Linked DNA regions of Homo sapiens: region 1 is linked to region 2. The links come from fine-mapping of genetic effects on gene expression. A gene starts in region 2. The other region holds a variant in brackets. All regions are shown on one strand. Distances are between the middles of the regions.

Region 1 (4,383 bases), 88 kb before region 2:
CCCCATGCAGGCATCTCTCTCTGGCACTCTGACCTGCCAACTCCTGCTGACTTGGTCTCTTCAACTCACGGAGGCTGCTGGGCTCTTCCTGGGCCCCTCCCTGCACTGAGGCCTGCAAACTCTCAAGGCGGAGGGAGGTCTGAGGCCATCACCGGGCTCACCTCCCGTTTTCCTGTCTCTCAGGGATCGCGGTCCTTTGTTGCCAAATGTCTTGTGTCTTGACATCTTTTGTTTCATGTTTAGTCTTTTTTTGTCTTGTTTTAGGTCTGTTTCCTATGCTGTTGTCTTGGGTGGAAGTGGAAGGTTTGTTTTTTAAATAAGACAAAATTATAAATTTGTTTGAAAATGTTAGGGAATGTCTAAAATCCTGGGAAATACCTGGACACCTGCTGTGCTATTCCCTCTGGATCGTTCCAGCCACGCGATGGGCACCGCCACCCCCAGAGTCATCAGGCCTGGCGTGCTGCTCCCTCTGTATTGTTCTAGCCACATGATGGGCACTGCCACCCTGACAGTCATCAGGCCTGGCGTGTGCGGCTCAGCAGCACAGCAGGAGCCCCCTCACACACTGCAGCCTGGGTGCCCGTCTCTAGTTCTGGCTCTGGCTCATCTTCCTCGACGCAGGCTCTGATATCAGATGACCAGGGGCTGTGGGCAGGGCTCCATAGGCCCGGGTGGGCTGGGCTGGAGGACACAAGCAGGCCCAGCGACCCCAGGATGGAGGAGGACTGGCTGCTAGAAGAGGAGGTGCTGCTGTCTGAGATGGTGGAGTGTGGTCGCTTGAAGGGGGCGGCGTGGTCAGAGGAGGACACCGCTGTGGACCCTCTCATTTGTGACTCTGGAAAGGGACAGAAAGCACGTCAGGCTGGCTTCCGCTCCAGAAGTGCAGCCCAGGTTCGGGAATGGGATCAGAGCCGTCTGAAAGGCCGACCAGGCTTTGCCACTGCAGTCATGCCCATCCAACCCACCATGTCGGCCACTGGCCCAGTGCCCTCTGCAGGATGAGTGAGGGCGGGGCCGAGGCCACCGTACCCGTGTCCTTGACGACAGGCCTGGTGCACTCTGTGGGCGAGTGAGGGTGGGGCCGATGCCACCGTACCCATGCCCTTGATGACAGGCCCAGTGCCCTCTGCAGGGTGAGTGAGGGCGGGACCGAGCCACCGTACCTGTGCCCTTGACGATGCTGTCGGGGACTCGGTCGCTCATCACTGCACATTTGGGAGCCCGGTCGCTTATCACTGCACAGTCAGGGGTCCGGTCTCTGGGCTTGACATCCATGAATGGCTGGTTGCCTATACCCATGGATGCCATTTCTTGGATTCTGAGTTCTAAGACAGAAGAAAGTATGACAGTTTCCAAAGCAACTCGGGGGCTAATGCCACCCCAAAGACGCCCGGTACCCCTAATGCCCTCAGCCCAAACCAGGAGGGTGTACAGGGTATACCCACCCTGCCCCACGAGGGGCATGGGGGGCCAGGGTGCTGAGGCTTCCCATTCCGGTTTTCGGCACCAAAGAGATCTCTCCCAGGGAGCCCGAGGCAGTAACCAAGAAAAAGGAAGCCATGAGGCCTTGGAAACGGCGTGTCCAACCTGGGGGTGAGGAAGGGTTCCTGTCAGCTGGTAAGCAAGGGAGGGCCACACAGCAGGTCCCAATTAGAGCAGGGGTCAGAGGCCTGGGAGCCGTGTCCATGGGAAAGACAAAACAACAGGTTTCTAGGAGTTTGAATATTGAGAGGAGAGCTAAGCATAAGGTGAGAGTTTGGGAATGAACTTATTCTTGGTCAAATTAAGCAAAGAAAAAAGATGATATTAATTGTAAGGAAAATGTATGAGGACAGAAAACATAATTGCATGTATGTAGTCCTAATGCCTATGCTGAAGAATATTATAGTAAGAATTGTTTTCCAGAGGTCTTGGGAGAACGGGAAGAAGTGCGGTGTGTGTGTGCTACAGTCACAGAGTTACTGATCATCTTCACCAATAGGTAATGTGCAAAGCTGGTTTATCAAGAGCGAGTGTCCCCTCTTGCAGGGAAAGGGCTGAGTGTGGCTGCCCGGGACACAGGGCTTGGAGTTGGGCAGTGAACAGGACATTGCTCTTCCCCTAACTCCGAAGGCTATTTTAGGGTTAGAGCTGTGCACGTGGACGCGGGACAGCTTCCTGCTCTGGCTGCAGTGGGTTTGCTCGTGTACCTTACATCCAAGCCCACGGCCAAGAACAACCAGAAAAGCTGGACACACTTTTTGAAGGTTTTCTGGAGGTGACAAGGCAATCTAGCCTCAAAGGGCCAATGTCCTGGGCAGATGTGGCGTTCACAGGCCACTGGAAACTTGACACCTTTCTACCCCTCAGGGCACTGCTGGTGGCCGATGAGCAGAGAGCTCATCTTGGAGCTTGGAGGCTGAGAGCTTCTGAAAACGCACAGGGTGGGGAGATAAAATCTGGAATTCAAGGACCACTGGGAGGAAGGGCCTGGGAAACTCCCAGACATTCAGTGGGGACCTGAAAAGGGAGCATGGACTTTGCCAGGAGTGGGACAAACGGAAGCTGGATCAGCTGCCCAAAGGTCTGAGGCGGACTTCATGCAGTCCCTCCCCGGAGTGC[A/G]TTCAGATGAACCACCCCTGCTCTTCCAACAAAAATAAATCCTCTGGAGGTGAAGACACCAGCCCGGGCCTCAAATGATCCTTACACATTTCCTACATCATATCTACTACTTAATAAAAAAATTATCAGGCACACCCAGAGAAAGGACAAAATGAGGAAAGGCTGAGGAAAACCCCAGATAATTAAACATCCACGAGATAAAGGTTTGGACGTCTCAGACAGGCCGTGGAGGTAACCAGGATTAATGTGGCAGGAAGTAGATCACAGGATAGAGAGTCTCAAAAGGAAACCGAAATCCATCAAATAAAAGGAATCAAACACAAACCTACATATCAAAAATAAACCAATAATGAAATAAGTGAGTTTAATAGCAAAGCAGATCAATGAACTTTAAGATGAGTGGAAAACACACAGAAGCAGGGAAGACGTGATCGAAACATAGAAATCACACGAGAAACATAGGAACATGTAAAAGGGTCATACGTGTAATCGGGAGTTCCAGGTGGAGTGCAGAGAGTGGAGCAGGAGAAGTGATCAAATGTTCCAGAACTAACCCCACGCTCGGACACAGGCAAGGACCACCACGCTTGGCCGTCAGAGCATAGCTGGCCTGGGGACAGCCAGAGAGCTCTCATTCATGGCGGTGGCTGCCCAGGTCTCTCTGCCTGGGGGGTGTTCCCCGCCTTCCTGTGGATGGGACAGAAGCATCAGGTGGTTCACACACCAGGAGGAGCCTCAACAATGAGGGACAGGAGTTGGCAGAAAAACACCCAGGTCCTTCAGTATGTGGGGGTCCCTCAGCATGTGGGACAGTGCCTCAGTGTGCCTGTCTTCCAGAGGGTGTGTGCAAGGACCTGCCCATCAATCACCCTCCATGGCCTTCCCCTCCTCTCTCACTCCCCTGTTCTCACCAAATAGGTAGAAAACAAAGAGTAAGATACTCAATTTATACCCAAATTACATTAAATGTAAACACACTACTCCAATTTAAAGACAAGGTTAGTCAAACTAGATAAAAAGATAAAAGTGAAATCAAACATATGCCTTTTACAAGAGACGTATCTCAAATATAAGAACACCAAAAGTTCCAAGTAAGAAGATGGAGAAGTATGTGTCGTGTAAACACTAACTTTGCAAAAGGAAACTGGAATAGCTATATTAATAGGAAGCACAGTTGGCCTTCTGTATCAGTGGGTTCCATATCCACAGGTTCCACCAAGGATCAAAAATATTTGAACAAAAAGCAATTAACAATAAAAGTTAAAAATACAAATAAAAAACCAATATAACAGCTATTTATAAGCATTTTCATTGTACTATGGATTATAAGTAATCTACAGATGATTTAAAGTATATAGGAGCATGTGTGTAGGTTCTATGCAACTACTGTTCCATTTTATATCAGCGACTTGAACAACTGCAGATTTGGGTATCCGTGGGGGAGTCCTGGACCGCATCCCCATGGACATAGAGGGACAACTGTAGATCTAAGGCAAAAGGCACTGCTAAAAATAAAGAGATGCATTTCATTATGATCAAAGAGGCTCTGTTTCTAGGAAGATATAGCAATTCTATATTACTATGCACCTACTAATTTAGCTTCAAAACATAGGAAGCAAAAATTGACAGAACAAAAAGAAAAATAGACAAATTCAAATTTACATCATCATGGGAGATTTTCACATAATTTTCCTAGTAAGTGATAAGCAGCCAAAAAGCCAATAAGGATATAAAAAATCTGAAAAACACAATTTTCAAAACATGATCAGAACTCTGCAA
Region 2 (4,383 bases):
GGTCAGACAAAGTCTGAGGCTCTGTCTTCAACAGCATGGTGGAAGAAGGGAGCCCCTCACCACACACGTGGCACCTGAGGTCTTGGCTGGACCCAACAGCACTGGCCTGTCCACAGGGAGCACCTGCCCTGCCAGGTGTGGGGCGACCCAGGTGGGGAACAGAACCGCTGCCGCAGGGCACAGAAGCACTGATGCTGTATCAGCCAGGAGAGGCACCAAAATTTCAGGGCCCTTGAGGGGAGAAGGAGAACCAGGACCTTGAGTTTGGCTCAAACCTAGCTTTGCTGCTTCTTGGCAGTGAGATGCTGGGCAGGTGTTGAAGCCTCAATTTCCACTATCTATAGAATGAGTAGCCCCACCTTGGAGGTCTGAGGTGAGAGTTAGGAGGCTCTAGATGGCCTGACTTTTGTTCAAACGCAAAGAGAGGACAAACTCATTCTGTTTGGAAGGAGGGAGGCAGTGGTGTCTGAGCTAGACTCAGATGATTTCCCACAAAAATCTCTGAGATCTGGGGATCTGGGGCCTCCTGTGTTTGGCTGGATGATACAACCTGTGAATACAGGTCTCAGGGAGCCTTGGGGCAAATTACTTCCTCAGCCCAGCATTTCTGGGCTACTTTACAAGTAACGAAGAATTCCTTTGAGACCACCGGCCAGCTTGAGAGCTAGCCAGTGCCACAGATCCCACAAAGGTGATTTCAGACTAGACCCACCCCCCAGAAAGGCCAGCAGCGCCCCTCTACCAGGATAAAAGATGAGAAGGCTCCGGCTAACACAGGGGACCTGACACCCTGGCCTACCGGCTGCCTGCGGGGTCAAGCCTGTGTGCTCCCAGCCCAGGCCACATCTGCATTTGCACACCGGATGCCGCACAGTGAAATAAAAACCTGGTATCTCCTCAGAAGCAGGAATATGAACCCACTTCTCGGTGGGGGGGTCACCAAACACTGCTTCCCAGTGGGTTGTGATCCCATAGGGAATGGAAATGCTGAATATATCACAGAATCTCGGAGACGGCGGCCTCCTCAAGATCTCCGAAGTTCCTTCTGACCCAGAGAGCCTGGAATTTTGTGAATTCGAGGCAGGCTCAGGGAAATTGAAAGCTAAAACTCACCTTTGTCCACATTACATGAAGATTTACATTAAATCTCTTCGGGAAGCTGAGAAACCTACCTTCCCAGGAATCTTGATTCAGGACCCACCCAGCTGCCTAAGGCTCAGTCAAAAGTATCAATTATGCACCGTTTCAATGACATTTAACTTAATTTTTAAATTATATGTTTCAATTCTTAATTAGACACCTAGACGTACCAACTAAACTTTTTAGGCAAAAGTGCTGTTGGGTAACAGGAGTAGAGTGTAATTACCTCACCTCAACCACTCTTTAGTTTCACACGAAACAGGGAAAGGCAAACCCAATATACTTTTTGCAACTCACATGAAAAACCTGAAAACAGCTTTATCACTCTTTCACCAAAGCTGAAATAACTGTCTTGTTTTACTAGCAAATGTTTCTTACTCAAATCAACTAGCACTCCAACACAAAAGTCAATCTTGGTATTTTTAAGTAAAAATTCTCTTTGTTCCGGGCCACCACAGATCACTGTTCTGTCCCACCGGTTTGAGCTGAAGAGTAACTTAGCAACTCTCAGTTTTGGCGATGAGATTTCAGACTCCCCTCCCCTGGCTCCCCTTCAGGCACCGAGAGGGCAAATCTGTCCAGAAAGCGTTATTTCTTCTCCCGAGTATTCACGAGGTTACAAGGAAAAGGGTGCCTGAAGAAGCTCCCTCCCGTTCCCGCAGCAGCCGCCGGCAGGTCCCAGGACCCACGCCAGGACCCCCAGCACGTCTGGGTACCCGCGCCCCCTCCCACCCCAGTCCCCGCGCCCGCCCGCCTTGATGCTCGCGCCTTCACCCCGCCCCTACCCCCGCGCCCCCACCCGCCCCTACCCCGGCGCCCCCACCCGCCCCTACTCCCGCGTCCGCTCGCGCCCCCACCCCACCCCTACCCCCGCGCCCCCACCCGCCCCTACTCCGGCGCCCCCCCCCACCCCGCCCCTACCCCCGCGCCCCCACCCGCCCCTACTCCCGCGTCCGCTCGCGCCCCCACCCGCCGCAGTCCCCGTGCCCCCTCTTACCCGGGCGCCTGGGCCGCCCCCGCCGTCTGCTGTGCTGAAACCCATGCTGGACCCTGGTCTCCCGAACTCCGACGCTTTCCCCGAACTCTGCCTGGTCCCGCTGTGCACTGGGCCGAGGCCGCCTTCGCCGCGCGCGTTCCCGGGGCCCCGCCCGATCCGGGCGAGAGAGGGGCGGGGCCGGGGTCTCCCCTAGGAGGCTCCGAGGGTCCGGCCGGGGCGGGGCGTCTCCCCTGGACCCGGCTGCGCAGCTCCCGCCTAGCCCCGGACGCGCCCACCTGGGCGGCTCCTCCCCGAGCGCGGGCGGCAGTGGCTTCTGCTTTTGTTCTCTCGGAGCCCGGAGCTCGGGGACCTGCCATTTTGTGGATGCCACGTTGCACCCGGACGGGCCCCTGGTTTCCATAACGTAGAGGCACAAATCTGAATGCTCCAGGGCAGAGGATCTGACCCCTGAGTTCTGCCAGTGTACCCGGACGGGACCCCGATTTCCCCTGGTCTAGGCGGACCAGCTCCAGATTTCTGCAGGTGTGGACGGCCCAGGCCCTCTCCTCCGTCCAGGGGCCGCTGTGGGAACTACGTGCCACCCCGCGCCTGGCTTGGATAATGAAGGGCTTCAGCGAGGGCCCCAAATTCCATCACCCTCCCCCCCCACAACTCAGGGTGCCTCGGGGTGTCTGGTGCTCTGGAACATGCTTTCCCCAAAGGTGCAATTTTAATGCCTTGATCTACAAAGAGCCTCCCAAAACAAAGTCCCTCTCCCGCCCGTTAGTCCAGGGTGCTCTGGGCACCAGCTTCCTGCTGGGAATTCAGCTAGGGAGTGTCTCATAAGGTCCACTCCGTCCAGGAGGGCCTCACAGGGACCCCACCTCAACCTGTCCCCTCAACTTGTCCCTCACCCCTACCCTGGCACCATCCCAAAAACTGCGGCACAGATGTGCTCATTGACAGATAATGCTCCGTTTTGTCACAGGTTACAGAGTGGATGAAGCTCAGGGACACAGCTGGGAGCCTCCCTCCTATGCAGCTCAGGGACACAGCTGGGAGCCTCCCTCCTATGCAGCAGGCAGTCAGTCTCCCTGGGATCTCCGTCGAGGCCTCCTTGAGTCTCTGTCTACTCCTTCCTAGAATCCCTGTCCACACCTCCCTGGGATCCCCTCGAGGCCTCCCTCCCTTGAGTTTCTGTCTACTCCTCCCTGGAATCCCTGGCTGCGCCCCGCCTTGATTCTCCATCTACACCTGTGTTCTCACTGTTCCCTGTCCTGCTTACTTGCTCTGCTTCCTAGAACCTCCAGCCCCATCCCTGAGCCCAGGCAGGGAGCTGACCTGTTCCTGCCCTCTGTGCTGGGTATCTGGGTGTCCCTCTGTGCTGGCCCCTACCTGAGGCCCCCAACACCCCTGCCACACCCTCCTCCCAGCCCGTCCTCGTGACAGTACTGCCCACGGTGCTGTCCAGGATGGGAGCCACCTTTCTAAGCCTGTGTGGCCCCACAGCTCCTGCCAGAGCAGGACCCAAGAATGCTGGCATGCCTCCAGAATAAACGGCTTCATCCCTGTTCAGCACCTCCAGGACGGTCAGCAGTGACCCAGTGGCGCCTGGTCAGGGTGCAGCCCGGAATCTCACTCTTACTGGAGACTTTGGGGCCCGTGGTAGGAGCTCACCCCTGCCACACCTCCACTATACAGAAAGAAAGTGGGACCGTGTGGGGCTTTCTCAGCCCAGGAGTCCTTTGTGAGCTTCTCCAGCCCGTTTCTACAGATCTGGTTCTTTCTTTGCCATGGATCCATGGAATTAGGGATGTTTTCTAGGGAGTTTTTCCAAAACATGGACTATTAACATAGCTTGGTTTATTCAAAAAGTACTTACTGATCAACTACTACTGGTAGTCACAGCACAGCCCCCATCTCTGGGAAGCTGACATTCCAGTGGAGGGAAATAAACCAGTGGACAGAACACAAATCCGGTCAAGGAAGGCCTCTCTGATGGGGCAGGCTGAGCAGACACTGAGAGGAAGCTACCTGGGACTTGAAGGCAAAGGAGCCACCTGTGCAAAGGCCCTATGGGGTGGGGGGGGGGCAGATCTGGTGAGCTCACAAACACAGCGAAAGTGGGGACACTCAGAGGGGATGGAGTTAGAAAGGAAGCGACCTGTTCCGACTTACATTTCAGAGAGCTCAGCAGGCGGAGGCAGGAGATCAGGAAGTGGATGCCTGATCTTGGTGAAAGTGATGAGGTTGGGTTCCAGGGGAGT

Direction of the effects. Positions count from the first base shown, and alleles are read on the strand shown. Sizes are in standard deviations (SD) of each study's normalised expression.
In carriers of allele G in region 1, the expression in lung of the gene that starts at base 2,246 in region 2 tends to be lower than with A alone (small effect, 0.39 SD a copy in GTEx).

The links. PIP is the estimated chance that this variant, and not a neighbour inherited with it, causes the effect.
Region 1: its variant is the best candidate, but not a certain one, in a credible set for the expression of PLEKHG4B in lung (GTEx, PIP 0.79).

What each region holds. Positions count from the first base shown.
Region 1 is chr5:178,459-182,841 of GRCh38, reverse strand. PLEKHG4B (pleckstrin homology and RhoGEF domain containing G4B) reads right to left here. Exons shown (of 20, transcript NM_052909.5): 19 at 1,167-1,328; 20 at 1-838. The coding sequence ends at 519. Among named protein-coding and RNA genes, the nearest start is that of LRRC14B, 11 kb to the left of the region's middle. RefSeq lists an enhancer at 581-1,081. The variant A/G (reference allele first, on the strand shown) is at 2,605.
Region 2 is chr5:90,031-94,413 of GRCh38, reverse strand. It overlaps PLEKHG4B (pleckstrin homology and RhoGEF domain containing G4B), which reads right to left and starts at 2,246. Exons shown (of 20, transcript NM_052909.5): 1 at 2,138-2,246. The coding sequence starts at 2,182. RefSeq lists an enhancer at 3,207-4,046.